Linked DNA regions of Homo sapiens. The protein of the gene in region 3 purifies or fractionates together with the protein of the main gene of each other region. This does not show direct contact. Each region holds a gene or a part of one and is shown on either strand. Other genes may lie near its edges.

The links.
Region 1: the proteins of TSPYL6 (region 3) and ZMYM3 purify together in Homo sapiens (affinity purification with mass spectrometry; 2 studies listed by BioGRID and IntAct, with this or other methods). This does not show direct contact.
Region 2: the proteins of TSPYL6 (region 3) and USP46 purify together in Homo sapiens (co-immunoprecipitation; 3 studies listed by BioGRID and IntAct, with this or other methods). This does not show direct contact.
Region 4: the proteins of TSPYL6 (region 3) and WDR20 purify together in Homo sapiens (co-immunoprecipitation; 3 studies listed by BioGRID and IntAct, with this or other methods). This does not show direct contact.

Annotation. Positions count from the first base shown.
Region 1 is NC_000023.11:71,251,089-71,258,545, reverse strand, and holds the start of ZMYM3 (zinc finger MYM-type protein 3), read left to right. Parts: upstream 1-4,405; 5' UTR 4,406-4,517; intron 4,518-4,809; exon of another isoform or gene 4,810-4,972; intron 4,973-5,271; 5' UTR 5,272-5,290; coding exon 5,291-5,957; intron 5,958-6,944; coding exon 6,945-6,988; intron 6,989-7,301; coding exon 7,302-7,368; intron 7,369-7,457. UniProt on the Homo sapiens protein: Plays a role in the regulation of cell morphology and cytoskeletal organization.
Region 2 is NC_000004.12:52,649,237-52,656,496, forward strand, and holds part of USP46 (ubiquitin carboxyl-terminal hydrolase 46), read right to left. Parts: exon of another isoform or gene 7,075-7,260; coding exon of another isoform or gene 7,060-7,074; intron 1-7,059. UniProt on the Homo sapiens protein: Deubiquitinating enzyme that plays a role in behavior, possibly by regulating GABA action. May act by mediating the deubiquitination of GAD1/GAD67.
Region 3 is NC_000002.12:54,252,994-54,260,386, reverse strand, and holds TSPYL6 (testis-specific Y-encoded-like protein 6), read left to right. Parts: upstream 1-4,157; 5' UTR 4,158-4,235; coding exon 4,236-5,468; 3' UTR 5,469-7,209; downstream 7,210-7,393.
Region 4 is NC_000014.9:102,191,697-102,198,956, forward strand, and holds part of WDR20 (WD repeat-containing protein 20), read left to right. Parts: intron 1-1,766; coding exon of another isoform or gene 1,767-1,818; intron 1,819-3,241; coding exon 3,242-3,424; intron 3,425-3,430; exon of another isoform or gene 3,431-4,177; coding exon of another isoform or gene 4,178-4,208; intron 4,209-6,058; coding exon of another isoform or gene 6,059-6,151; intron 6,152-7,260. UniProt on the Homo sapiens protein: Regulator of deubiquitinating complexes. Activates deubiquitinating activity of complexes containing USP12. Anchors at the base of the ubiquitin-contacting loop of USP12 and remotely modulates the catalytic center of the enzyme.

The DNA.
Region 1 (7,457 bases), on a different chromosome or scaffold from region 3:
GACAGGGTTTCACCATGTTGCCCAGGCTTGTCTCGAACTCCTGAGCTGCCACCACGCCAGCTAATTTTTGTATTTTTTAGTAGAGACGGGTTTCACCACGTTGGTCAAGCTGGTCTTGAAGTCCTGACCTCAAATGATCCATCCGCCTCGGCCTCCCAAAGTGCGGCCTCCCACCGTGCCTGGCCAGCCCTTATTTTTAGGTGCTAACATTTTTTCATGATTATAAAAACAATATGTGCTCAGTAGAACAGTTTAGAAAATACAAGGCTGGGAGTGGTGGCTCACGCCTTTAGCAATCCCAGCACTTTGGGAGGCCGAGGTGGGTGGATCACTTGAGGTCAGGAGTTCGAGACCAACCATAGCCAACATGGTGGAACCCATCTGTACTAAAAAAAATACAAAAATTAGCTGGTGTGGTGGCACACGCCTGTAGTTCCAGCTACTCGGGAGGCTGAGGCATAAGGATCGCTTGAACCTGAGAAGCAGAGGTTGCAGTGAGCCGAGACCATGCCACTGCACTCCAGCCTGGGAGACAGAGTGAGACTCTGTCTCAAAAAAAAAAAAAAAAAGTTTAGTAAATACAAAATGCAGAAAATTATTTTTATTTATATATTTATTTATTTTTTTGAGACAGAGTCTTGCTCTATCGCCCAGGCTGGGGACAGTGGCACAATCTCGGCTTACTGCAACCTCCAGCCTTACCCTCTTGAGTAGCTGGGACCACAGGCGTGCACCACTACGCCTGGATAATTTTTTGTGCTTTTGGTAGAGATGGGGTTTCACCGTGTTGCCCAGTCTGGTCTCCAACTCCTGAGCTCAAGCAATCCACCCACCTCGACCTCCCAAAGTGCTGGGATCACAGGCGTGAGCCTCTGCGCTCGGCCTAAATTTTTTTAAATAAAAATTTTATTTACGGTCAGGCGCGGTGGCTCACGCCTGTGATCCCAGCACTTTGGGAGGCCGAGGCGGGTGGATCACGAGGTCAGGAGATTGAGACCATCCTGGCTAACACGGTGAAACCCCATCTCTACTAAAAATACAAAAAATTAGCCGGGCGTGGTGGCGGGCGCCTGTAGTCCCAGCTACTCGGGAGCCTGAGGCAGGAGAATGACGTGAACCCGGGAGGTGGAGCTTGCGGTGAGCTGAGATTGGGCCACTGCACTCCAGCCTGGGCGACAGAGCAAGACTCCGTCTCAAAAACAAAACAAAACAAAACAAAACATATATATATATATATTTGAGAGATGAAGTCTCGCTCTGTGGCCCAGGCTGGAGTGCAGTGGCTCAGTCTCAGCTTACCACAACCTCCGCCTCCCGGGTTCAAGCGATTCTCCTGACTCCCAAAGTGCTGGGATTACAGGAGTTACTGCACCAGGCCCACTTTATTTTTTAGAGCAGTTTTGGCATCACTGCAAAATTGAGCTGAAAGTATCAAGAGTCCTTTGTACCCCTCTCCACACACAGACACAGCCTCCCTATCAACATCCTGTCCAGAGTGGTAAATTTCTTGCAGTGATGAATATACAGTGACACATTATCAACCAAAGGCCATAGTTTACATAAGGGCTTCCTTTTGGTGTTGTACATTCTATGGGTTTTAATTTTTTTAAATAAAGATTTTATTTTTTAAGAGCAATTTTAGTTTCACAGCAAAACTGACAGGTAGGTCCGGAGAGTCCCATATACCTCCTTCCCCCATGCAGTCACGGCTCCCCTGACTACCAACATCCCTATCAGAGTGGTAAATTTGTTAAAATCGATGAACCTACATTAACACATCATTACTAACCAAAGCCTGCGGTTTACATTAGAGTTAGTTCACCCTTGGTGTTTACATTCTGTATCTTTGAACAAATGTATACTTACAAGTATCCACTATTACAGTATCATGAGAGTATTTTCGCTACCGTAAAAATCCTCTGTGCTGTCTGCCATTAGTTGTTTTTTGTTTTTGTTTTTTTAATGTGGGGTTTTGTTTTGTTTGGTTTGAGACAGAGCCCTCGTCTGTCGCCCCGGGCTGGAGTGCAGTGGCGCCATCTGAGCTCGCTGCAATTTCTGCCTCCCAGCTCAAGTGATCCTCACACCTCCGCCTCCTGAGTAGCTGGGACTACAGGTGCACACCAGCACACCTTGCTAATTTTTTGTATTTTTTGTAGAGAAGGGGTTTCACCATGTTGCTCAGGCTGGTTTGGAACTCCCGGGCTCAAAGGATCCAACCGTCTTGGCATCCCAAAGTGCCAGGATTACAGGCGTGAGTCACTGCGCCAGACTTAAAATGTGGTTGTTAATGACTACGTCTGTTGCATAACCAAAATCCCCTATTATTGGGCATTTAGATTGTTTCCTTATCTGTTTTAAAGAGGAGAAAACTAAGGCCCTTCACTTGACAAGTCACTTGTCCAAAGTCACCTGGCTAAAAAGTAGGCAGAACTGATATTAGAAATCTGGTCTGACTCCAGAACCCATTCTTAGGCCACCACACTGCGTCTAGAATTAATAACACACCACTTAACCCCGTTAGATCAGCTCCCCTCAACTTGAAAGATAGTGACCAGGCACCTCCACAAGCAGAGCAGCCAAGGATTCAAGTATATGTTGAGGAAGGCAGGCAATACAGAAAAAACTAGGTGGCTCAACTGAGATGGAACAAGCAGAAAATGCAAAGGGGAGGTCCAGGAATAGAAATAAACAGGAGGTAGGAGATGGGTACACAGAATGCTGGTTAAGACAAAGAGAAAGCTGGATTTGGGAAATCTAAAAGTAAGAAACTCTGGCTTTTATCTCTGTATGTAGGAGGGAGCAAAGATAACCTCAAGGCCATGTGGGGAGCTAGCAAGGATAAGGTTTCTGGGAAAAGGAATGAGAAAAGGGAGGGTAAACTCCCGAGGACTACAAGAGCAGGAGAGGCTTTGTGTGGCCAGGAGGAGAGGCCAGAAGTCAACGAGGCAGGCTAGAATAGGCACTGGATACCAAACCTTCCTGTTCCTAAGGAGACTTCCTTCCAGCCTGAGCCTCCTCTAGTAGTTCGGCTACTAAATGCTCTCAGCCCTTAGGGGCTGTGGTGGGAAGTGGGGAGCGGGGATTGTAAAGTGCTCTAACTATTAATATAATGCGGACTGAGAATGGATGCTGGCACAATTTTTTAAAGGCAGTAGGCTTAACGCTAGTGCCACCTACCCCTACTCCACTTCTCTAGCCTAACCTCAGCCACACCCACATGCTAAGGACCATCCAGGAGGGGGGAGCGTGTAGCGCGCCTGCGTGCTCGTGCGCACGAGAAGCAGAGAGGCAGAGAAGGAGACAAAAAGAGATAGGGGGAGAGAGAGAGAGAGAGCGAGAAGAGAGAGACAGACAAGGACAGAAAGGGGGCTGGAGGAGAAAGAGAGAGAGAGATACAGAGAGAGAGAGAGAGAGAGAGAGAGAGAGAGAGAGAGAGAGAGAGAGAGAGAGAGAGAGAGAGATCAGCCCTGGTGAGGGAGGAAAACTCCATAGATAATACAGGGAGCTCCTGCAGGAAGACTCAGGGAGAAGATCCCAGAACTTACCCTAAGACTGTTGAGAGAGTAGGGGGTAGCTTTGCAGGACCTGGTTTGGGGGTCATCAAGCAGTAACGGTTACTGCACAGGCGTTGCCACTGAGCCAGAGCCATTTAACCCGACCTGTGTGGCTGGGGATCAAGCTTCAGATACCCCATAACTCTGACTCTCAGACTGTTTTGGGGGCCCCGTGGCTGCAGACAAGGGAAGGAGGGGCACGTGAGGGCTGGGTCCCTGCCTCCCCCCGTCCTCCGCTGTCACTCACTACCCCAACAGTCGCCCAGGGGGCGGGACCCGGAGAGGTGGGGATGGGGGAGGGTAATCTTGGCAGGCGCCTGCTGCATGGCGTAGGTAGGGACTATTGAGGGGGGCGGACGCCGAGGGGGTGAACACGAGTGGGAAGCTAAGAGAGACACGGGGAGGGGGAGGGGACCGGGAACCATTTGAATGAGAGGAGGGGATCACGGGTAGAGTGGGCTCCAGGAGGTAGGGCGAGCAGGGTGTGACGGGGGCCAGACTCTTGAGCCAGGTAAGGGGAGCAGGTGCGTAGATCTGTGTTTTTTGTGGGTGAGCGCACTCGGCCCTTGGGTGGAAAGGGGACGCCGCCTTTCCCGGGGGGCCGGCTTCAAAGCTCCAGAGGCTATCTTTTCCTTCTCAACTAACGGGGCCCCGGGCGGGGGCTCAGGCGCCGTCTCTAGTGGCTGCATTCCACTCCGCAATTTCCAGGCGGCCACTGGACTGGGAGTCTCGCGCCGGGGGCCGGCGCTGTCTCGCGAGCCCCCTCCTCGAGCCAGCCAATGGGGTTGGTTGCTGGCACCGCCCGCCCGCCTGGTGCAGAGCGCTGGGCGCTGCGAGCGGCGCTGCCATTTAAAGGGGCCGCGACCCCTGTCCCGGCTGCTAGGGAGGGAGGTAGAGAAGGAGCGCGGGGCCGTCGCTGTCTGCAGTTCTAGGCTTGTAGCCTTTGCACTAACCCTGCCGCAGGTAGGGGTCGGGCCTGCTCAAGCCGAACCGAACCTGCAAGCGGGATCTTGCAGTAGCCGGGAGGCGGTGGTGGGGGGGTCTAAGGAGAGATCGTAGCTCCAAAATGTCTTCCTGTAAATGCCTGAGGTTGGGGGTGGGCAACAGGAGAAGGGAGGACTGGAGGAGCAATGGGAAAGGGGGACGGGGCTGAGGAAGTGGGCGACCTGAAAGGTAACTGGGGGGAAGGGGTTGCGAAGGGCAGTTTGTGGGGGCGGGGGAAGGGCCGAGGGAGGACCTAGCAACGCGGGGAGGGGGGGTGGGGCCAGACAGGGTGGGTAAAGACTGGGGAGCTGGGGGGCTCCTGCAGAGTGGGGAGGGAATAGAAACTGAGATCGCGGGGGCGGGAAAGGCTCCTGGTGGCGACGGCCTTAGGAGACTCTAAGGGGGCGTTCAGCCTGAGTTGCGGGGGGTAAAAGGTAAGGGGGGAAGGGAATGGGAGTTGCAGTCGAGTAGGGGGGTGGGCGGGTAGAACGACCGACTGCCTGGCCAGTGTGGGCACGGGGCCAGGGCGGGGAACGCCTCTCCCCACTGGGGGCGCTGTATTGGGGGGAGTGGTCATTAGGACTAAAGCCTTCGGAAATGCTTGTAGATTGTGGTGGTGGGGGCTGCTCATGAGAAATCCAAGTGGATGATGGGGTGTGTCTCAGAGCCTATATAAGAAGGAATTCAGGCTAAGACCACCTCTACTGCCCCCTCTTCTACTCCTAATCTGCAGTACATATCCAGCCATACTCATGGACCCCAGTGATTTCCCCAGTCCATTTGACCCATTGACCCTGCCAGAGAAGCCCCTGGCTGGAGACCTACCAGTAGACATGGAATTTGGAGAGGATCTACTGGAATCCCAGACTGCCCCAACTCGAGGATGGGCCCCCCCTGGCCCTTCTCCATCCTCGGGAGCCCTGGACCTGCTTGATACCCCTGCTGGCCTGGAAAAAGACCCTGGAGTCCTGGATGGAGCCACTGAGTTGCTGGGGCTGGGGGGGCTGCTCTATAAAGCCCCCTCTCCCCCGGAGGTGGACCACGGTCCTGAGGGAACCCTGGCATGGGATGCAGGAGATCAGACCCTAGAGCCTGGACCAGGGGGCCAGACCCCTGAGGTGGTACCACCTGATCCAGGGGCTGGGGCAAATTCCTGTTCACCTGAGGGGCTACTAGAGCCTTTGGCTCCAGATTCTCCAATAACACTGCAGTCCCCACATATTGAAGAGGAGGAGACCACCTCCATAGCTACTGCAAGAAGGGGCTCCCCTGGGCAGGAGGAGGAGCTTCCCCAAGGGCAGCCACAGAGCCCAAATGCCCCGCCTAGCCCTTCAGTGGGAGAGACTCTGGGGGATGGAATCAACAGTTCTCAGACCAAACCTGGGGGCTCTAGCCCCCCTGCACATCCTTCCTTGCCAGGTAGGTTGCCTAATTATCTGGAGAATCAGGGCTGGGAGAGGGTGGTGGTAAGGAGGGGTGGCTATGTGCTTTGGGAAGTAGTGGGGAGGAGGAGGGTGGAGAGATAAGTGTAGGGATGTGTGTGGGGAAGGACTTGGGGTTTACGAGGGAGGAGTGGGGTGGTGTGTAGAGGAAGATTAAGGAAAGTAGGGGTGGGCACAGGCTGTGGGGGAGGAATGGGGTAAGGTTTCAGGGAGCGTAGGTTGGGAGGAGTGAATTTGGTGGGAAGGGTTCCCTTTTTCCTACCCCAGTGGGCTTTTGGTGCCAGAGTCCTTCCTTCAGGATTTGGGGGAGTACACCAGGCTTCTTGGTTCTAAGACCTTTACAGCTTTTTGGTTCTAGATGGGAGTGGGATTTCTGGGTTTGATGAATGGTAACTAGGTTCTGGAGCCCCTAACAGCATAAGGATTTCAGCAGAGCGATAGAAATGCAGGGTCTAGGATTGCGTCTCTGATAGGGGAGGGACAACCTTGACTTGAGAGGCTCTAGTGTCTCCCCTCTTCTGCCTAGTGGTGTGCCTCTATCAGGCTGTGACGAGGGTCTTAGGGCTTATATAACCACCTGAATCCAGGGGAAGCTACCCATACACTGATGCTTCCTTTTCCTTTTGCTACCTTTGGGTGGTTGTGTGTGTTTTTCATTGGTAAAATATAAATTCTTAATGAAAGGTATATTACCTGTGTTTCCTTAACCCCCAAGGATTGGGACAGAAAGCTGGTGGGAAGGATAGATTTTTTTTTTTTCATGGAATAGCTGCACGTGCACCCCCCCACCCTTAGTACAGAGCCTGAGGTAACCCTGAGAGGGGCCCCAAGAAGCCACAGGCACTCGAGTTTTCCCTTTCAGTTTTGAGTAAGTTCTTCCCCAGGAATGGAGGCGGGGGTTGGGCCGGGGAGAGGGTGGTGAGGGCAGGCTCAACATTTAGGCTGCCTTCTGCTTCCTTTGCAGGAGATGGCCTGACTGCGAAGGCGAGTGAGAAGCCGCCTGAACGGGTGAGGGGGAGGGGATTGGAAGGAGTCTGGTTCCCCCTTAGCTCTGGGAAGGACAGACCCTTCATTTTCCCTCCCAGATGTTGTTCTGTAGAGAGTGTGTGTAAGGAGAGTTAGGAGGAGGGAGGGAGCACTAGTGTCTACTGCTTGTTGGGGAGAAAGTCCAACCTCCTTTTCTTCCCTCCTCCTAAGGGCTGGGCCAAGGGTCCCCACTCTCCCTTCCCCCTCCCATCTTCTATCCCCCCCCAAACCCTGTACTAGTGTTAGCCTGGCCAGGGTGTCAGTTTTCCTCCCCTCCCATCTTTCCGAGGTACAGAAGAGAAGCGAGCGCGTTAGGAGAGCAGAACCTCCAAAACCTGAGGTTGTAGATTCCACTGAGAGCAGTAAGTAGGATTTGAGGAAGTGTGACCTGGGAGTTCTGGGTGTGGAAAAGGTCCGAAAGTGGCATGCGGCAGGGCATGGATCTTCTAGC
Region 2 (7,260 bases), on a different chromosome or scaffold from region 3:
GAAGGAAAATAATGATGAACTAAAAGAGTGAGAATAATTATGAAAACTAACAAGCATGAAGGCATCATAGCTCACACAGTGCTTCCATGGGCAGGATCTCTTCTGATGCTCCCCAAAAAGCTTTAAAGAAGGTATTTCATTGACTACCTTTGTTGTAAAAAGATAAATAGGATCTGAGATTTACCAAACAGGATTCTGAATTCCAAACTCCTCCACTTTACAACTATATGGAAAATAGAAGTTGTTTTGTTTTTCCCAAAGCCTTGCTGCTCTAAAAATGGTCCCGAAACCAGCATTATCTGTACCACCAGAGAGTTTGTTAGAAGTGCAAAATCTCCGCCCTGCCCCAGACGTGCTGAATCCAAATTGACATTTCAACTAGACCTCCAGCTAATGCCTATGCATGATAAAATTGGAGGCATACTGCTTTACTCCAAGGCAATTCTTCCATTCTACCAAATTACATCCCTTCATTCATTTATCAATATTTATTTATTGAGCACCAACCACATATGTGCTAGGCACTGTGCTGACAGCTGGGAAATCAACACTGAATAATACAAATAAATACAGTTCCTGCCCTCATAGAGTTGTCAGTCTAACATGGTGGTTTATCAACCTTGGATGCTCACATCGGAATCAACTGTGGCACTTAAAATACACACACACACATACACACGCAGGTGCCTAAAATTCACCCCAGACTACCTATATCTACATACTGTCAGAAACGCTGGAGACTGGGACCCTAGAAACTGCATGTCAATAAAGCTCCAATTGGTGGAACCACTTTGGAGAGCAATTTGACACACCTAGCAAAGCTGCAGATGGGCGCATCCTAAAAGCAGCATATTGACTTCCAGGATTATACCCTAAAGAAATGAAGACACCTGAGCAAAGAAGACAGAAGCAAGAACATTCGCTGCAACACTGTTTCCAGAGAGAATATTGTAGAAACTACCAAACTGCCCCTAAATAAGAGAATGAATAAGTAAACCATGGTTAAGTCAAAGAATCCTGTTACAGAGCAGTCAGAATGAATAAACTCGACCTCTATGTGTTGACATAATCTCAAATATACTTGTTGAGTAAAGAAAGACAGTTGCAAAAAGCTACACGATTTTATCCACACACAAACGTTGCAATCCATTGCTTATGAATTCATAAATACAAAGTAAAGTATAAGACATGTTTGGTAAACACCATATCAACTTCAGGAAAATGGTTTGCTCTGGGAGGAAGAGAAAGGAAAGAGATTGGGTTGAGTTAGTGTCTGTTTTTAAGGTAAAAGAGTCTAAAAAGAGTTAGTGCTGTTTTTACAGTAATATGTCTAAAAATAAAAGTAACCAAATATGGCTACATTTTAATATCTGTTAAATCTGAAGGGTAGGTAAACATATATAACATTATTTTTTCATGCTTTTTTGTATGTTAATGTTTTGTGATTTAATTATTATTTTTAAAATTTCTTTTAAAAGCTTCACAGGTGATATGATATAAAGCCAGTGCTGAAAATCTCTGTTCTGAATATATAAACTAATACAAAACCTGGCTATTTAATACCAAGAAAAAGTTAAGTTGGCCGGGTGCAGTGGCTCACGCCTGTAATCCCAGTACTTTGGGAGGCCAAGGTGGGCGGATCACGAGGTCAAGAGATCAAGACCATCCCAGGCAACATGGTGAAACCCTGTCTCTACTAAAAATACAAAATTAGCTGGGCAAGGGGGCACGTGCCTGTAGTACCCTACTCAGGAGGCTGAGGCAGGAGAATCGCTTGAACCTGGAAGCAGAGGTTGCAGTGAGCTGAGATCATGCCACTGTACTCCAGCCTGGCAACAGAGTGAGACTCCATCTCAAAAAAAAAAAAAAAAAAGAAAGAAAGAGAAAAAAGAACAGAAAAAGTTAAGTTACTAGCTTAAATAATTTTACATTCATTTTTTTAAAAACTTTCACATGGCAGGTAATTTCTTAAGCAATATTTTTTAAGAGGCTGAGGTTATTACCCAAGGGAAGCAATATTTCTCCAAGCATGGTCCTCAGCTCACCTATAACAGAATGTGGAGGGAGTAGAAGGAGGAGGGAACACTAATTTAAAAGGCAGATTCCAGAGCCCCAACTAAGACCTACTTAATCAAACTCTCTGGGTGTTGAACCCCAGAGTCTAAATTTTTAATAAGAGAATGCACATGTGGGAACCATTCTTTGGTACACCAAAGAACCTAAAACCATACATTTCTTTGTTTAATGAGGTAATACTCATCATACTCTGAAAATTAAAATGAAGTGTAGAGAATACTTTCTAAATATTTAAGACAGTAATTCCACCAGTATATATTCAAGCAGATCCAGATAAAAATTTTCCTGCACTGTGTACCTAACCTGAAGGACAGAGAAATGTATTTTAGGAAGATGACCATCGTTTCACAATGCCTTTCTAAAAGAACTTGAAAAAGCAACTGGGTAAACAGGAAAACTCTGCAAGTCCAGCTTTGCTGCTGTTCTCACCAGAACAGGCCCCAGACACGATTTTCACTAAAGCCAATGTCAATTAAACAAAGCAAATGTGGCTTGAACAAGGCCTTGCTGGCACAGGCAGGTCTCCCAAATTTACTCTCAAAATTCAAGGTATCTTCTCAGTGCTACTCTATTATCTTTTTGTTACTAGTTTTCACCCCTCCACAGTGATTATCTTGTCATCATTTTTTTCACCTGCATCTTCCAATCCATCCCTACCTTTCATGACTTTTGCTTTGGTCTCCTTGATTTTCCTCTTCACTGTCCCTTCTTCATTGTCCCTGTTTTCAGACAAAACCAAAACTACAATCCTGACTTTCAAGACCTGGAAAACTGTTCTCAGGCCCCTGAGTTGAAAACAAACCAGCATAACAAACACATGAAAAGATGTTCAACCTCCCCTAGCAAACAGGAAAAGTGCAAATTTTAAACCACAAAGGCACAATGTCACACCCATCAGACTGGCAAAACATCAAGTCTAGCAATATCAAATATCTGCAAACATGTGAAGCAACTGGAACCCCCAAACGCTGCTTGGTTGGAATGCAAATTGGCATAACTTCTTTGGAGAGCAATCAGGCAACTTATTAAAGAAGACGATCAAATTCCTTTGACCCAGCAATTCCCTTCCAGGTTTACACCACAGAGAAACTGTCAACTGTCAACTGTGTATACTATACACAGGGAGATGAGTTCACAACTGTTCATTGCATTAAAACAGCACACTCACAAATTTGTAAACCTGCTTACAACATTAAAATGAATGTGTCATAGCATATTTATATAATGGAATGTTATACAGCAGTTAAAATAAACTAGGATTATGTGTCTCTCAATGGATAAATAGCAAAATCACAATTTAAACAATAAAAGCAAACTGAGAGGAATGTTTAATATTATAAAGCATGTTTAAAACATGAAAAAATACACTATATCTAGTTTATGAATGCATACAAATCTAGTAAAAATATAAAAATATACAATAAACACTAAATGCAGAATAGTGGTCACTCTGTGGGGAGAGGCAATGAGATCAGGAAGGACTCATAGGTGGTTTTAAATGTATATATAGTATTTTATTTCTTCACTGGGTGGGGAGTACACGAGTATTCACTCTATTATTCCACATTTCTGTATGTCTAAAATTCACCATCACTCAGAAAAAAAGGCAAAGTCTGAGCTAATTTAAAAAGTATCTGAGGGTTCTAAAAGTGACATTGGAACTTGAGGAAGAAAAGGAAGGTTGGCCCTATGAGGGTAAAGTGAAGCTTTGGCGACCACAGAGTCCCATCACCATGATCTTAAAACTATCCATTGCAAAGAATCATTCTGAGAATTGGGGTAAACTTCCATGTACAGCACTTACAGCATCCCTCAAACTTCAAGCCATAGTCCCAGAAGAGAAATATTCCAAAAACCCTTTACTGTTAGGGTTGTTCGCTAACACAGAGTTCGTCTCAAGAATGTTTTCGTGGCAGGGCACAGTGGTTCACACCTATAATCCTAGCACTTTGAGAGGCTGAGGCGGGCGGATCACCTGAGGTCAGGAGTTTGAGACCAGCCTGGCCAACATGGTGAAACCCTATCTCTACTAAAAATGCAAAATTAGCCAGGCATGGTAGCAGGCAACTGTAATCCCAGCTGCTCAGGAGATTGAGGCAGGAGAATCACTTGAATCCAGGAGGCAGAGGTTGCAGTGAAGCCATCGCACTCCAGCCTGGGCAACAAGAACAAAACTCTATCTCAAAAAAAAAAAAAAAAAAAAAAAAGATTTTGCTGATTGATTTTTGGGTGGCCTTTTCTCTTAAAGACCACCAAGGCCTTTCAAACCCTTAGATCAGCATTTGGTTCCACCACAACTGAAGGTTTGTTATAAGAAGCTGCATTAAAATAATTAGACCAGAAAAGTTAACTAGACTAAAAGACACCATCTTTTACATCTCTTCCAGTTAGTTAGCTTTGGGTGGCTTCATGGGTAAGCTAGAGATAGAGATAGGTGGTTACCAAATACCTTTCTGATGATACCACAGAATTTAATACCATCATGGAACCCCAATCTATTCACACTAACTAGAAAGACCAGGAGGGGGAAAAAAAAGACATCTGAGCTAGAGAAATTTCTCTTAATTGCTAAGAGAATCAAAATTGAAAATGCCTTTCAATTATAACCCAAACATACCAAAATTCCACTTAGTGAAGAATAAATAAACAGATTTTATGGTATGAGTGAACTGAAGCACATAAAGTTGTTATACAGAAAAGGTATCATAATCTTTCATTCTAACTAAATACCAGCATTCAACTTTGTTTTCTCTGAGGAGTCCAAGAAAAACAGAAAAATCCGCAGAACTAATTGTCAGGTCCCGACCTAATATAAACCTCTGCATATGAGACCAGTGGGGCCAGAAAAACAGAATTTCTTTTCTTTAAACATTAATCCACCTCACCTCAGACTGTATTTTCTAATCCCAGCAACTATCAGAGTAGACCCTCATATGACTTTACACCTAGCTGATATATTAACTAAACTTATAATTGCCAACTATCTTTGAGAATGGAAAGCATGAATAACAGTAACAGAGGAAAAGGCAAGATATCTGTTCCCCCAAATCACAAGATGGACATATTTTTTAATAATTAAAAAGTTGTTTCCAACCATTCTCAAAATACTTGCCTTAGGTAAGTAGTTGACTTATCAAGATAAAACTATAAAAATACTCTAGTTTTGTTTCAAAATTGTAATGTTTACTTTCCCTTTATTTCCAGATAACTTCATTTATTTATATGATACATTTTTATTTACATGATTTTGTTTGTTTCTTTTTGGTAGAGATTGGGTCTCACTATGTTGCCTAGGCTGATCTTGAATTCCTGGGCTCAAAGAATCCTCTTGCCTCGGCCTCCCAAAGTACTGGTATTACCAGTGAGCCACCATGCCCAGCCTACCTCATTTATTTAAAAGAACTAAAATCTGGCACTCAAACTGATGTCAAAAATTATCCTGAGGCTGTTCTACAGACGCTAAAATGCTAACATGTCATAAGTTCAATACAGTTTTAAACAAGGTAGTTAGGTAATGAAGTGGTTGCTAACCAATTAAGAGGTGCAGATTTTCATAAAGCCTTTATCTAAGGAATTCTACCATGAAGTTTTTCATGACCAAAAACAGAAAATCAGTTTTACAAGATGAGAAAAACTAAGGTCTCCGGAAATACAACAGTTTGCCCAAAAGCACCATTAGATTCATGCTTAACTGGAGAGACACCCAATGGTGCAGATTTCAATTCTAACTCACATTGACTACAATCATGTCCTCATATAAAATAAAAGCCAGAAGCAGAATGTGTATACAACTTTGGTCAAACGAGAATGTATTTTTGAAATGTCCTGTTGTGTTAATCGGTCTTTCCACTGTACAGCTGCTGGGAGTTTATTCAACTTCTATCTGTGCTGATATAACACTGTATTGAAATTGTTTCATCTTTACCAATGTTAACACCCACAAGATAAGGAACAGCTGAGCCCCTTGGGGACAGGGACTCACCTCATTCATTTATTAAGCACTTGAGTATAGTCTGTGCCAACACCAACATAGCAGGTCCTCAACAGATGGCCATTTATCGGAACAAAACTCGTAATCATTTGATACACAGCATTTTCTCAGAGGTACATCTTACAGCATTATTAACAAATGAAATAAGATTAGATGATCTGAAGCAACTTGCATTGGTATGTCACATTTGGTTTCTTCTAACTAATGCTTCCTTTTTAGAAAATTTCTCAAGCTCTTCAAATAGGAAACTTAAAAAACCCAAAAACAAAAACTTTCCATTTGCAGGGCCATAAAAATATATAGGAAGTTAAATCCATTGGTCTGGACAAAAATCAGAGGATTATCAACAGAAGACATTTCCTCATGCTTGGTAGCAGCTAGTGCATTATGAAAATTACAACACACCAGCCAAACAAGCTTTACTATCTCTGAACCACACACTGCTGTGTGGCCAAGCTGCCTTGCCCTGAGCAAGTTCATCAAGAATTACCATGGCAGGAATTCACATGGAAGAAAAATTAAAACAAATAGAAACTAGTACTAAACTTCCAGTGAACAATAAAACTTCAGCAAGTGGGTGGGTAAGTGGAGGAATGAAGATATTTTCCAAGTTTCCTATAACTAAAACTGGCACAAGAAGTATGGGGAAAAGAGGGGATGTTTAGTTCTCAATCACACGAAGTATCTGCTACAAATTTGATTTCTGCTCTGCTGGGTCCTTTCTTATCTGGTGGAGGAAACAAATCCACTTTCAATGATAGATCTTCGTTTTTTCCTGTTACCCAGAAAAATGGTACCTTCTAATATCCTTTCTGAACACATATCAGCCTGTTCAAAATATGTTAAACGATGTGCTTAAGAAAAAAATGCAATCACCATTTGCTCTTACTACAACTACTCAAACCAGCTGGGACCAAAGTTAGGAGCGGGAAGGGTCAGTAAGAGGCCCACAGAGGAGCTAAGCAGTGAGAAGGGACCTGTAAGACACCTACCTGAAAACAATTCATTATTGAGCAAAGAATCTAAAGAGAGGTCCAGTTAATATTTACGTCTGATCCAGTGAAAAGACAGCAGTTTCCTCATACCCAGCCTTCTCCTCTGGGAAGGAAGACTGGGAGGGACAGTGGGGGCGGTGGGTGGGGGATTGACCTGAGCAGGGGGCGGGGTTAAGGATTCCCACTCCAGCCTTCCTA
Region 3 (7,393 bases):
AACATTGTCTGACAATACTTTAGGTCACAGTCTAGTCACTCTTCTCTCTAGACAACTATTTCATACCTTCTTCTCTGTCCTCAGACTCCCACTGCCTGTTGCCCCATCCTCACACTCATTTGATCATCTTGCTTTCTATTTCACTGAGAACAATGAAGCAATCAGAAGACGATTTCATAAATCTCACTATCACTTCTACCTGTTTACTAGCATATACACCTCACACTTTGACTTCCTGCCAGTTACCACTAGTGAACTTGCCATGCTCCTAAAGCTGACATCTCCTTCTCCACTTAGGTACTAGATTCCACCTCCTCTTGTCTATTCCAGGACATCCCTCCAATAATGCTTCCTTCTGTCTCTTACATCATTAGTTTTATGCTCCCTACTGGATCATTCACATCAACCTGCTTCTTTACACATGCTTCATCTCCCATTTTAAAAACACGTTCTTTGATCCATTTCCCCACCAGCTATCATCCCATTTCTTTGAAACAAAACTTCTCAAAACAGTTGTATATACTCGCTGTTTTCACTTTTTCGCTTCCTGTTTTCTCTTAAACTTATTCCAGCCAAGCTATTATCCCACCACTCCACTGAAAGTAGCTTGACTACTCTTGTCATGATCCCATTTCTTTGTTTCTTTTTGGAGAAAAATTCCTCAAAAGAATTGTCAATATTCAATCTCCATTTCTTTTCTCCCTTTCCCTTTCAAACATATTTCAACCCCCACCACTCCACTGAAAGTGCTCTTTTTGAGTCACCAGTGACTCTTTGTTGTAAAATCCGACGGTCAATTCTCAGACCTCATACTAACTGACATGTGAGCACCCTGTGACACAGCTGAACACCTTCCTTTACACATTTGGCTTCAAGCACATTGCACTCTCTTGGTTTCCTTCCTACCCTGCTGGTCTCTCTTCAGTCTTCCTTGCTGTTTTTCCTCTTTTTCTTGACCTTATACTTTTGGAGTCTTCAGGGCCCAGCTTATCAGGACTCACTATCTTAGTGTTCTCATCCAACCCTTTGACTTTAAATTCCATGCATGCTGATTATCCCAAAATGTGAATAACTATCTCAGACCTCTCCTGAGCTCTAAACTCATTATGCCCACTTGGCATCTCAACTCTGGTGTCCAATAATCATCTCAAACAATATGTTAAAAAAGAGAGACAACTCTGATTTTCCTGCAAAGATCTTCCTCATTATAACCTTCACCATCTCTGCTTCCAGTAACTCCATCCTACCAGTTGCTCATGTCAAAATCATTGGAGTCATCCTTGACTTCTCTCTTTCTCTTACACCCCATGCTGGGAGGTGGGGCCTTTAAGAGGTGATCAGGTTGTTAAGATGGATTTATGTTTTTCTTGCAAGGCTGGATAACTTCTCATGGGAATGGATTAGTTTTTGAGAGAGTGGGTTGCTATAATGCAAGTCAGCCTCTCTTGTCCATTCTTTCCCAGGTGCTTGCTTGCTCTTCTGCTTTTTTGTCATGCTACTTCATAGCACAGCATATTGGACTTCTCAGCATCCAGAATTGTGAGTTAAATAAGCTTTTCTTTATAAATTACCCAGTCTCAGGTATTCAGTTACAGCAACAGAAAATGAACTAAGAGATCCCATAGCCAATTTACCATTAAATCAGGCTGACTCTACCATCATACTATGTCCACCATCCACCTCCATTGCTGCCACCTGGTCTGAGAAACATCTTTCACCTGGGTTACTGCAGTAGCCTCCCAAAAGATCCCCCTAAATCTACCATTGCCACCATACAGATTATTTTTCACCCAGGAGCCAGAGTGATTCACGCAAAACTTAAGTCAGATTTTGTGTCCTCTGCTCAAAATCCTGTAGTAATTTCCCATTTCACTAAGAATAAAAGCCAAATTTCTTACACTATCATACAAGACCCTACTTGATCTAGCCTCCCTCATTCACTGTGCTCCAGTCACGCTGGCCTCCTTGTTATTTCTTGAACATTCCAGACATGCTCCTGTCTTAGTGCCTCTGCTTAGCACTTCTCGTGCTGAAATGCTCTCCTCCAGGATTTCTACTAGCTGACTCCCTCAACTTCTTTGACTCTTTGCCAAAATCTCATATTTTCAATGAGGCTTCCTCTGACCACCCTATTTCATACTACAATCTCCTCCCCACTCCCTACCCCCAGGACTTTCAATCTCCTTGCTCTATTGTTTTTTCCATAGCACTTATAACTTTCTAATGTGCAATATTGGTTTCTTGTTATTATCTTTCTCCCCTGCTAAAATGTAAACCCCAAGAGGGAAGAAATCTTTGGTCTGTTCACCGTTATATCCAGAGGGCCTATAAGAGTACCAGGCACACAGTAGGTACCCAATAAACATTTGTTGAATGTTTAATAAATATTTGTTGAATGTTTAATAAATATAAAAATGGATTATGTGTTCCTTGAAGGTTTGGTAGCAGTCGCCTCAAAATCATTTGAACCTCATGCTATTTTTGTGGAAACATTTTTTTAAGCTACTGATTCCATTTGTTTATTGTCTCTAGGTCTATTTAGATTTTCTATTGCATTTCAGTCCGTGTTGATAAGTTATACATTTCTATGAAGCCATATATTTCATCTAAGTTTGAAAATGTATTGGCATAAAGCTGTCTAACATCCTGTCTTATATTTATTTAAACCATCAATGTGACTATAATTTTCTCTCCAAATATTGCTTATTTTCTCTCTCCTTTTATTATTAATCTTTGGTTAATGCTCTGTATTGTCTTACATAAATTTCTCCTGTTTATTATTACCTTTTCTCTATGTCCTTTGGCCTAATTCTATTGGTCTTTTATATATTTCTCAAATTATTTTTCATGATGAGTGATACAGCACTTGCCAATATTTCCAGTTTCCTCCTTCCAGGCTCAAGAGAAGATTACACCTCCCTGTCCTATTAAAGTTAGACAAGGCCAACTGACTAGCTGTAGCCAATGATTTATGTCACTTCTGACAGAAACATTTAAAAACCTATGCATGGGGAAAGAATTGTCTTTTCAATAAACAGTGCTGGGTCAATTAGATATTCATATGGAAAAAAAGAAATTGTGACCCCACTCATAAAAATCAATTCCAGATGGATGGCATATATAAATTTGAACAATCTTGGTGAGATAAGATTCCTCTTTTTTTCTTCTTTTTAAAAATAGAGATGGGGTCTTGCTGTGTTGCCCAGGCTGGTCTCCAACTCCTAGGCTCAACTGATCCTCCCGTCTCCGCCTCTCAAAGTGCTAGGATTACAGGTGTGAGGCACTGTGCCCAGGTGAGAGGTAAGATTTCTTAAACAGAGCAGAAAAACACTAAGGTAAAGGGGAAAATGACAAATTGGCACATATTAAGATGAAAAACTTTTGTTCTTCAAAAGGTACCATTAAGATGGTGAAAAAGTAGGCCAGGTACGGTTGCTCATGCCTGTAATCCCAGCACTTTGGGAGGCCAAGATGGGCGGATCACCTGAGGCCAGGAGTTCAGACCAGCCTGGCCAACATGGCAAAACCATGTCTTGACTAAAAATACAAAACAAAACAAAACAAAACAAACAAACAAAAAAACCGGGCATGGTGGTGGGCGCCTGTAATCCCGGCTACTTGGGAGGCTGAAGCAGGAGAATCGCTTGAACTTGGGAGGCGGCAGCTTCAGTGAGCTGAGATCATGCCATTGTACTCCAGCCTCGGCGACAGCGAAACTACGAGTCCAAAAGAAAAGTAACCCCACAGAGTGGGAGGAAATATTTGTAATACCTATACTGGAAGAGAAATATTTGTAATACCTATACTGGAAGAATGACTGACTAGTATCTAGCATGTACAAAGGCTTCCTACAAATCCATATGAAAAATAACGTCAGCCCAGTAGAGAAATAGGGAGAAGCCTCGGATACTGCACAAGAGAGAATATCCTAGTGGCCAACAAACACATGAGAAGGTTCTCAGCTCATTAGACTTTGGCTAAATGCAAATTAAAACCACCATGTAATATCATTACTCATCCAGCACGATGGCTAAAATAACAAAGACGTAAAGACACCACCACAGACTCGCGAGACTGAGGAGTGAGTGTCGCGAGACTGAGGGGTGGGTGTCGCGAGACTGAAGAGTGGGCGGCGCAAATGGGCGAGGTGTTTACTCGCCATTTTGTGTGAGGAACGTTGACGCTACCTACCTCTGGCCTGGCCTCTACCCACTGCTGCCCTGGCCGCTACCAACATGAGCCTCCCGGAGAGTCCTCACAGCCCCGCTACTCTCGACTATGCTCTGGAAGACCCGCACCAGGGCCAGAGGTCCCGAGAAAAGAGCAAGGCGACAGAGGTAATGGCAGATATGTTTGATGGCCGCTTGGAGCCAATCGTGTTCCCACCGCCCCGGCTTCCAGAGGAGGGGGTCGCGCCCCAGGATCCCGCAGATGGTGGCCATACTTTCCACATCTTGGTCGATGCGGGTCGCAGTCATGGAGCCATCAAAGCGGGGCAGGAAGTGACTCCACCACCCGCGGAGGGCCTAGAAGCGGCCTCTGCCTCGCTGACAACTGACGGCAGCCTCAAAAATGGCTTTCCGGGTGAAGAGACGCACGGCCTAGGTGGGGAGAAGGCTCTAGAAACCTGTGGGGCAGGGAGGTCGGAGTCTGAAGTGATTGCAGAGGGGAAGGCCGAGGACGTGAAGCCTGAGGAGTGTGCCATGTTCTCAGCCCCAGTGGATGAGAAGCCAGGAGGCGAAGAAATGGACGTGGCGGAAGAAAACAGAGCAATAGATGAGGTAAACAGGGAGGCAGGGCCTGGGCCCGGGCCCGGGCCCCTGAACGTGGGTCTCCACCTGAACCCCCTGGAGTCCATCCAGCTGGAACTGGACTCCGTGAATGCAGAGGCTGACAGGGCGCTCCTGCAGGTGGAGCGCAGGTTTGGGCAGATTCATGAATACTACCTGGAGCAGAGGAATGACATCATTCGCAATATCCCGGGCTTCTGGGTCACTGCTTTCCGCCACCACCCACAGCTGTCTGCCATGATTAGAGGCCAAGATGCCGAGATGTTAAGCTACTTAACCAATTTGGAAGTGAAGGAGCTCAGACACCCTAGGACAGGCTGCAAGTTTAAGTTCTTCTTTCAAAGAAACCCTTACTTCAGAAACAAGCTGATTGTAAAGGTGTATGAGGTCAGATCCTTCGGCCAAGTGGTGTCTTTTTCCACTCTAATCATGTGGCGCCGGGGCCATGGACCCCAGTCCTTCATTCATAGGAACCGACATGTCATCTGCAGCTTCTTCACCTGGTTTTCAGACCACAGCCTTCCAGAGTCCGACAGGATTGCTCAGATTATTAAAGAGGACCTCTGGTCAAATCCACTGCAGTACTACCTGTTGGGTGAAGACGCCCATAGAGCTAGACGTCGCCTGGTAAGGGAGCCAGTGGAGATCCCCAGGCCCTTTGGGTTCCAGTGTGGTTAACCTTTGCCTTTGGAATTACTCCTGCAGAAGGTTGCCTGCCACCACCAGCTGGACCTGAGCTTGGGCAACAGCATTAGGTATGCCCTTTACTTTTTTTGTTCTGACTTTCCTGTACCCTCTGTTTAAACTTTCCGTTCTCTCAACCTGAAGATTGAGACCTTGGTGGCTGTGCTGCTCCCCTTTCACCTGGTCGTCTTGCTATTCTGCATTAACATCACATGCTCCCAGCCGATGGGTCACATCCTTCTAAGCGAAGCGAATGATGCTGTAGGTTACACTGTATTTACCTTTGTTTGGACTCGGTTTGTTCCCAGGACCTCTGGTCTGGCTCCTCCTACTTGGATTTCTAGCTGTGTCTAAGAACCTATTCAGCTCACCCTGCTCTGCATCTGACAGTACAGGTGCATGGCCTGTGGACAATTGCTGGGCATTAATGAAGTCAAGGGAGAACAGCAGGGGGCAAGTTGGTCTGTGTGAATTATGGGACCCCATTACTTTTCCTGAGACTGGTCACCTATTGCTGCCTGCTACTGGCTATTCCCAAGTACTGCTACTTGGGCAGCTCCCTGCTGAGTGAACATATCCCAGACCATTGCCAGCTCCACTCTCTGGTTTCTAATAAACAGGGATCTCCAGAACACTGGTGGTGGACACAGCTTTCCTGTCAGCACACAAAAGACCTGTTCCTCTTCCAAAAGACCTCTCTTTACCACCACCACCCTCATCACTCAGAAACCCTACTGTTTGTTAGACAGGTGGTTGAGGGGACATGTCAGACCCTATCCTCATGGCAAGGTTAATATGTTGGTGTTCTTGACAAGTACCAGGCTTTCTCAGCCACAACCAGTGGATTCATTCAAAATCTAGGTACCTTTATTTGCCTCCCTTCCTGAACCTAATGAAGTGCCAGAGTGAGTGTACACTTTCTTTTCTCTCATCTCTCATAAATCTCTTCTGTCTTCCTTTAAAAAAAACAAAAGTAGTAGTTCAGAAACATCCGCAGAAGCAGGCTTTTTAGTTTCTTGGCTCTCTTTGTCATGTCCAGAGGCAGGCTGTTCTGTAAAATAGACTGCCAGACCTCTTATTGCCCATTCTCCTTTCTTCTCAGCCCCTCACCCCTCTTTAGCAATTCCTAGAGGGTTTAAAGGACTACAGAGCTGTATGGAATGAAAGGTGATTTCTAGTTCAGAGTGGATAGAAGAACTAAAGAGATTGTGATGGGTGCTCTAGGCAGGGAAAACTGAACAAAAAGGCAGAAATGATTCAGGGGAAAATCGGGCCTAGAATTTACACTGGGTTGACTAGTTATGATGGGAAGAGAAGTACTTTTTTTTAGTATGCACGTAGAAGAATAGAAGATGGTTGGAGTGTTAAATATGTTCCCTAGAGAAGGGTTCTTTGAAGAAACACTGCAATTTTGGGTGTTCTCTTTCTTGTTTGCATATGGCCTTACTTATGTGGAAGATTAATACTGTGTTATAATATTTTCTCTTTCTGTTTACTGGGAAGATTCAGCTGTACAGATTTTCTTTTACTTTCAAATAGAAATATTTGGAATAATATCAGTCTTTCTTTTTTGTACATTATGTGGATATGGATATTCATGGCAGTTTTCAGCCTGTTCTTGTTTCTGTTAAAACCGTATCTTTAACATTTTAATTTGAATAACTTGGTCTTATCTGATGCGGAAGACTGGAAACTATTGTGTTCATGGGTAAATAAACTACAAAATATTTATGGCTTTCATTGTCCTTTTTGATAACTTGTCCTGGTAACAACTTAGTAATTGACATGTCTCTTTTCTCAGCCTCCTCAGTAGCTGGGATTATAGGTGTGTGCCACCACGCCTGGCTAATTTTTGTATTTTTAGTAGAGATGGGGTTTCACCATGTTGGCCAGGCTGGTCTTGAACTCCTGACCTCATG
Region 4 (7,260 bases), on a different chromosome or scaffold from region 3:
TGTTGCCTGGCTGGACTTCTGCTGTTCCCGTTTGGTCAGTGCCACTGGAAAGGGATTGGGGAGGGAGGAGTGACCTTAGGTGAGAGAGATTCTAAGTGTTCCTTGGGGTCAGCCAGGTCTACTTTTGTGTCTTCTAGACAGTGCCACTCACACTAGTGTTGACAGATCAACTTTAAAAAAATTTTAGTCTATGTGGATTGATACTTTTGTAAAATAAAAAGAATTAATAGGAAAAGAAACTGAAAAAGACATACAGAATATAAACTCTAACTTTTTATCATTACATTCAACAGATATAAAATTTGTCCGTTGCCATAAAAGTTTCTAAACTCTTATTCTCAATGTCTGTACTACAGGCAGTGCATTTGACTGCAGACTAATAAACTAGTCCTGGACTGGTACACTTCAAGAGCAGTGACCTAAGAAGAAAGTTTGTTAAGCAAATTAGTAGAATAAACAGGATATTTTTAGAATATTTACCTGAATTTTTTTTTTTTTTTTGAGACAGAGTCTCGCTCTGTCACCCATACTGGAGTGCAGTGGCACGATCTCGGCTCACTGCAAGCTCCGCCTCCCAGGTTCAAGCGATTCTCCTGTCTCAGCCTCCCGAGTAGCTGGGACTACAGGTGCCCACCACCACGCCCGGCTAATTTTTGTGTTTTAGTAGAGATGGGGTTTCATCATATTGGTCAGGCTGGTCTCAAACTCCTGACCTCAGGTGATCCACCCGCCTCAGCCTCCCAAAGTGCTGGGATTACAGGCGTGAGCCACCGTGCCTTCTGGCCCATTTTACCTGATTTAAGAGTAAAAATAATCTCTTCTCATTTAAAATGCTTCCATCTTTTCAGTAAAGTTCCATATTGGGAGGCAGGGATGTAAAAATATACCAATAACTGAAGCCATTATAGTTGTGAGGGGTCCCTAAGTCTAACTCTAAACTGGTGGCAGTACTTGGAAAAACAGGTGCTTTTACTTCCTCTGTTGTTTCTGAGAAACATTACGTATTTTTTAATTTATATTAGGCTATTTTCTCTGTTAATTTCTGGCCAGCCTTTAAATTGATCTGTGTATTTCAGCGCATAATTTTAGGTATATTCTTTCAGGGGAAAGTTCCCTAAGTGGTTGTTGCTGTCATTTGTCTTGCTATGTCATCTAGCCTGAAGTGCAGTGGTGCAATCCTAGTTAACTGTCACCTTGAATTCCTGGGCTCAAGCAGTCTTCCCACCTCAGCCTCCTGAATAACTGGGACTACAGGCATGCACCACCACACCTAGCTGATTTTTTATTTTTCTTAAGCAAACTAAAAAAAAAAAAAGTCTCAAGAGTTGAATATGCTGATACAGTAATTATGTATAACTTAATTGTTCGTATTTCAAATTGGATTTTTGTTCTCTAGCTGCCAGTTATATCTTATTTTATATTTGTAGGTTTTTTTTTTGTTTTTTTTTTTGTGGCTGTCTTCCTCGTTCTGAGATGAATGGCATGTGGTGTTCTCTCAGGCCAGGATTCTCTTTCCCTGCCATCCGAGCCGCTCAGAAGCTGCCTTCCTCAGACAGCCTGTCCGTGGCCATCGTCCCAGGCCCCGCTGCTCACTCGCAGCACTCGGCTGAGCTGCCTTCAGCCTGCCTTGCTGTACAGCGGCCGCTCCCCTCCACTGGCCGCTTTTCTCCTCGCTCCAGTCAGGACTCCCTTTTGTTTTGTATCATGCTTTGTATTACACTTTTCAAGGCTCTTTCATGTATATATTCTCTTATTTCATCCTCCAGACAATCCCATGAGGTTGGTAGAACAGAGATTCTCATCTCCGTTTTAACTGAGGTGAGGCTGGGAGAGTGTCCGCATGGCATGCACCCTCATTCCTTTGCCCTGGGGCTCCCAGAACTACTTGTTACCGCTCAGGTCCAGACTTCTACATGTGCAAGGTTTTGAGTTTGCTCAAAGACGCCTGTAATTTTGAGGTCCTCTTTTCTACTCATTACTTATATTTGTTATTGGAAAGTCCAACATTAGAATACTTGGTTCGATGTCACAGGCCTCTTTGGAAGAAAGAAATCTTCAGAACCTGAGGGGGCGGTCAGTAGAGAACTAGAGCCGGGAGCCCCAGAGGGCCACACAGCGTGAACTGGGTGTCTTGAGGGACAAGTTCTGCTTCAGGGTTAGTTGTCTCCACTGGAGATTTTCAGACAAGAGTGGGAGGGGGTGGGTTTCCCTTATTTCACCAATAAAAGCCCAGCATATTGGGATGCCACAGGACATTTCTCATGAAGAAAAGAATCCTTCTTGAAAGTGGGGAGGGCACATTGAAAAATCACTTTTCACCCAAGTGAGAAATCATTTGCTTTTGACTCTCTCTCCCCATCCCCTTAATGGTCAAACAGACCTGGGTTCCAAATCCAGCCCTGCCACTTACTTAGGTAGGTATGGTGACGTTGGTCAAGTTATTTAACTTCCCTAAACTTGTTTTCTCATCTGTAAAATGGGTAAAATATTGTCCACTTTGGAGCATTATTGTTAGGATTAAGGACAATGCATGTAAAGTCCTTTGATTATGGCCTCGATAAGTAATGTTCCCCGAAACCTAATCCAGAAGAGGGATTTTGACCCAGGAAGGGAGCCACCTGTATAGAGTGGGCTCCAGCAGTGGTTCTTAGACTTGAGCGGGCATCAGAATCACCTGGAAGCCTCTTTACGACTTGCTGGCCCTACTCCCATAGTTTCTGATTCATTTAGTCTGGGGTGAGGTTTGAGATTTTTGCATTTCTAAGTTCCCACATGCTGCTGCTGCTGCTTCTGGTTTGGGGATTACACTTTGAGAACCACTGGGCTGCAGGTAACTGGCCAGTGGGCATGTAGGTGCTGTAGATACATTTGAAAGCCGAGCTTTTTATGTGGTTACTCTGTTAGACACTGCTTGAAATGCATTTTGAAAATACTGAATTTAATATCTCAAGGATATTTCCTGCTGAAGTCCAGGAGTCTTTGTTACATATATTTGAAGGAGAATAAGTTGTGAAAGTAACAGTTGTAAACATATTATAGATAGTCTAATAATATCTAATTGGCTAAGGTATGTGAAAGTGCTTTTATAAAATGTTAGATGATGTTAAGTCACAACTGAAAAAACATTTTAAATCACTTTGTTTTTAAGATGAAACATCATAATGGAGTATAAAGTAGCATAACTTAGATTTCTCATCTCAATGTGCTGTTTACTGTATGTATTTTTCTCTTTCTCCTCCAGGCTGCTGACTTGAGTAAACCAATAGATAAAAGGATATACAAAGGAACACAGCCTACTTGTCATGACTTCAACCACCTAACAGCCACAGCAGAAAGTGTCTCTCTCCTAGTGGGCTTTTCCGCAGGCCAAGTCCAGCTTATAGACCCAATCAAAAAAGAAACTAGCAAACTTTTTAATGAGGAAGTAAGTAGCACCCTGTCTTAGCTGTTAAGAATCCCTTTAAGAGTTGATACATTCTTACCGAGGGTAGTCGGCCTTATTTTGCACTTCAAGCTAAGCCCATTTTTTATTCGCCCAGCCCTCCTACCTAGTATGCCCAAGTTTAAATGTGGTGGATTAATTTGTTGACCTTACCTGTTCTTCCTTGGGGTGACTGTTTTGTGCATTTTTATGGAGCATGCTCAGGTGTCTATAACAGGTGTTTTAAAACTCTTCTATAATGGAGATAGGGACAGTACTGTAACTCGGTATTTATAATTTAAGTAAGAAAATGTGGAATTCCAAAGTTGGTTCACATCACCAGAACATTTCATGCAGATCAAAGAACTTGATGACATTTCCTTAGGCTGCTTAAATTGTAGCCAAAGCTTTTGTATGTATGTTTGACAGTCATTTGGCTAAGGAGTACTTCACTTGCTCTTGAAAATAGTTACTGTAAACTCATCTTTGACATAGTTGGAAATCCTGGCGCTTAAAGTTTGGTCACATGACATAGCTTTTGCCAGTGTTGTAGTATGTACTGGGGTTTCTAGTATCTTCAATTTCATTCTGGAAAGAGCCTGAGATATCTGAGCTGTCTGTTCAGGAACATGTCAGGACTGTTAAATGTGGCATATAGAAATTGCCAAGTAGATTATATTTTTTAAAGCTGTTGGAGCATCTTTCAGCCTCAAGTATTGCTATTTCATATTTAATATTCTTCCTCGTCTGTTTCAGTATGACTTTTCTACCAAGTGGAAAAGATAAGGTAGGCTTGCTGAGTTAGAAGCCCTGGGTTCCAATCTCTACTTGGGACCTTGCCCCTGAGGCGCAAGGGTCAGGCTATGTGGGACCCCCTCCCTTTTGCATTGTTGCATGGTTTTAACATCATTAACTTGGAACAAAAACACATTATAGAGTATGGTTTTTAAGAAATAATTTTGTTTGGGGAAGAAAATTCAAATTGACAAATGGCAGTTAAAATTTGGATTCTTTTGCAGTTATGGTACTTGCTATTCATGCAAATCAGTATCCACCCAGGGTGCTCCTGTTTGACATTGCCAGTGGATTTGATAAGATCTTATGAACCATGCCATCTCTTCTAGTTTCCTCTGAGTTGACTGGAAACAAAACTTGCCATCTGGACTGACAGATTGTAGAGGAAAAGTATTTAATCCCATTTTCCATTAAAAAAAAGTTAAGCAGAAAATATTTTATTTACCTAGATGTTTTTTTAGTATCATCTGCAGAAGTGATTTCTAAGTAGCTGGATGATTATTTTTTTGGTGCTGAGTTTGGGGAGCAGCGCACAAAATTGGCCTCCTCTGCACTGTTAGCAGAAATTGTGAATTTGGAATCATTGTGGGTTTTTATTGTTTAGGTAGGGGAGAGTGTGATTGGAGGGGGCAGGGATTGGAGCCATGTAAGGGCTGTTAGTAAACAAGACCCGGAGGCAGCCCTGGCCGAGGATGGTACAGAATGCCGCTTAGAGAACAAGAAAGTTTTGTGTGTCGTGGCAGGGGGAGGGCAGGGAGTTGGAGACCACACGTCCCCAGAATCTCAGGGCTCTGGGAGCACTCAGGCTGCATTGGCCAGAACTATCCCTGCCCTGGTGACTGGGAGTTGCAGGCTGGAAGGCAGCTCCTCATTCTTCATGATTTAAGCATGAGTTATCTCATACTCACTTTACATTTTATTTGAGAAATTGCTATTTAGAATGCTAAGACTGTGTGTGGTTTAATGCCAGCTTTGCATTTACAGCTTGAGGCTGAAATCGATTGCCCTTCATAGTAAGGAGATCCTCTGGCCATGTGGATACATTTTTATCAGATTTTGGTCAGAATGTCTAAGAGCAAGGGTCACCGGAGGTTTGTTCCTTAGAGAGTGCCAGGAATGGTGGTGAAGTAGTCATCGTGTCGTGCTTTGCTGTGGTGTGACATTTACAGGTTTCAAGGCACTTTTACCTATGGCCTCTACAGGGAGGGTGGGGAGTTGTTCCCATTTTACAGATGAGGAAATAGTCAAAGAGCACATAAGTGAATTGTCCAGATCAGGTAGCAAGTTGATGATAGAGTTGGAACCAGAAATTAATTCCAGAAACTCATTGGTTACAGGACCCACCATGCATGGTTGCCAGATGAGCTCTTGCCCTTCCGGGAGCTCACAGTTTAGTAAGAATGGACAGAGAGTACTGGGCACGTGTCAGCACAGCGATATGAACAAAATACCAAGGGCTAGCTGCCGCAGGAATTCTTTAGTATGCATTTTAAAGTTTTTTAAAATGTTAAGTTCACTGGGGGAGTTCCAAGAAATGCTTTTAGAAAGTGATGTTTGATGTGGGTCTTAAAGGGTACATAGTCATTAGAGGAGGGTAAGGAAGGCCTTCAAAGCTGGAGGAACAACTAGGCATGTGAAAGAACATCCAGTAACAGCTTGGCCACATCACAGTGTGGGACTTGGAGTGTCAGAGTTCGAAGCTGGAAAGATAAATTGGAACCAGCTTGTCTTATAAAAGCCTTTTCATGTCACGTGAAGCAATTTGGAACTGACACTGGAAGATGTGGGGGAACCTTTGGCCTTTTAATGAAGGGAGTGACAGGATCAAATGTGTTTTTTTAGAACTCTTGTCAGCACTTGTGGAAGGTGGATTGGAATGAAGAAAGACAGAATGAAGGTAGCAAGACCAGTGAGGAGGCTCTAGTAACTGTCCAGGTGAGAGCTGAGGGCTTGAACTAGAGTTGCGGCCATTGTTTCATTCATTCAGGACCTTGACTACCTACCACATGCCCAGCACTGGGTCTGCAGCAGTGGGCAAAACCTGCCCTCCTGTGACCCCTCTCAGGAGGGAAGAGAGGTATAATAGCACCACCCCCGAAACACTGGTGACCACAGATGGTGACACTTTGTGATGTAAGAGGCAAGAGAGCAGGCCCAAGAAAGGGAGAGAATCACAGAGGTCTACTTTATTTATTTATTTATTTATTTATTTATTTATTTATTTATTTATTTATGAGACAGAGTCTTACTCTGTCACCCAGGCTGGAGTGCAGTGGCGCAATCTTGGCTCACTGCAACCTTCACCTCCCAGGTTCAAGCTATTCTTGTGCCTCACCCACCCAAGTACCTGGGATTATAGGCCACCTGACTAATTTTTGTATTTTTAGTAGAGACGGGATTTCACCATGTTGGCCAGGCTAGTCTGGAACTCCTGGCTTCAAGTGATCCACCCACCTCAGCTTCCCAAAGTGCTGGAATTACAGGCGTGAGCCACCACGCCTGGCCAACACAGAGGTCTACTTTAAACTGGGAGGCAGAGGACATCTCTCGGACGAAGTGCTATGTTTTAAGCTGTGCCTCATGTGAGAAGAAGGCCAACCAGGTAAGGAACTGGAGATGGAGCTTTCCTGCAAAAGGAATAGCACATGAGGGCCCTTGAGCCCAAGGAAACTGAAAGAAGGACGGTTTACCTGGGGAAGGTGGCATGAAGTAAGGGCATGAGATTGGAGGGCCACATCACCTACGGCCTGATCCAGATTTGTTTCTTAGCCTGAAGTACGGGATTCCTTAGAAGGGAGCAGGTGCACAAGGCAGGCAGATTGGTGTTTTTGAAAGGTACCCTGGCTGCTTTTTGGAGACTGAATTGGAAAGGTGTATTAATAAATCAGGTTTCTGGGTGTCTCTTGCTGTGTTGGGTGAGACTGGGAAAGGAGCAGTTGTCAGGGAATGGAGGGGAAGATCAGAGGTTCTGGTCTGTACTTGCTAAGTTCGAGAGACCTGTAGATAGTGGGATGTATGGATCTGGAGCACAAAACTAGGGGTTA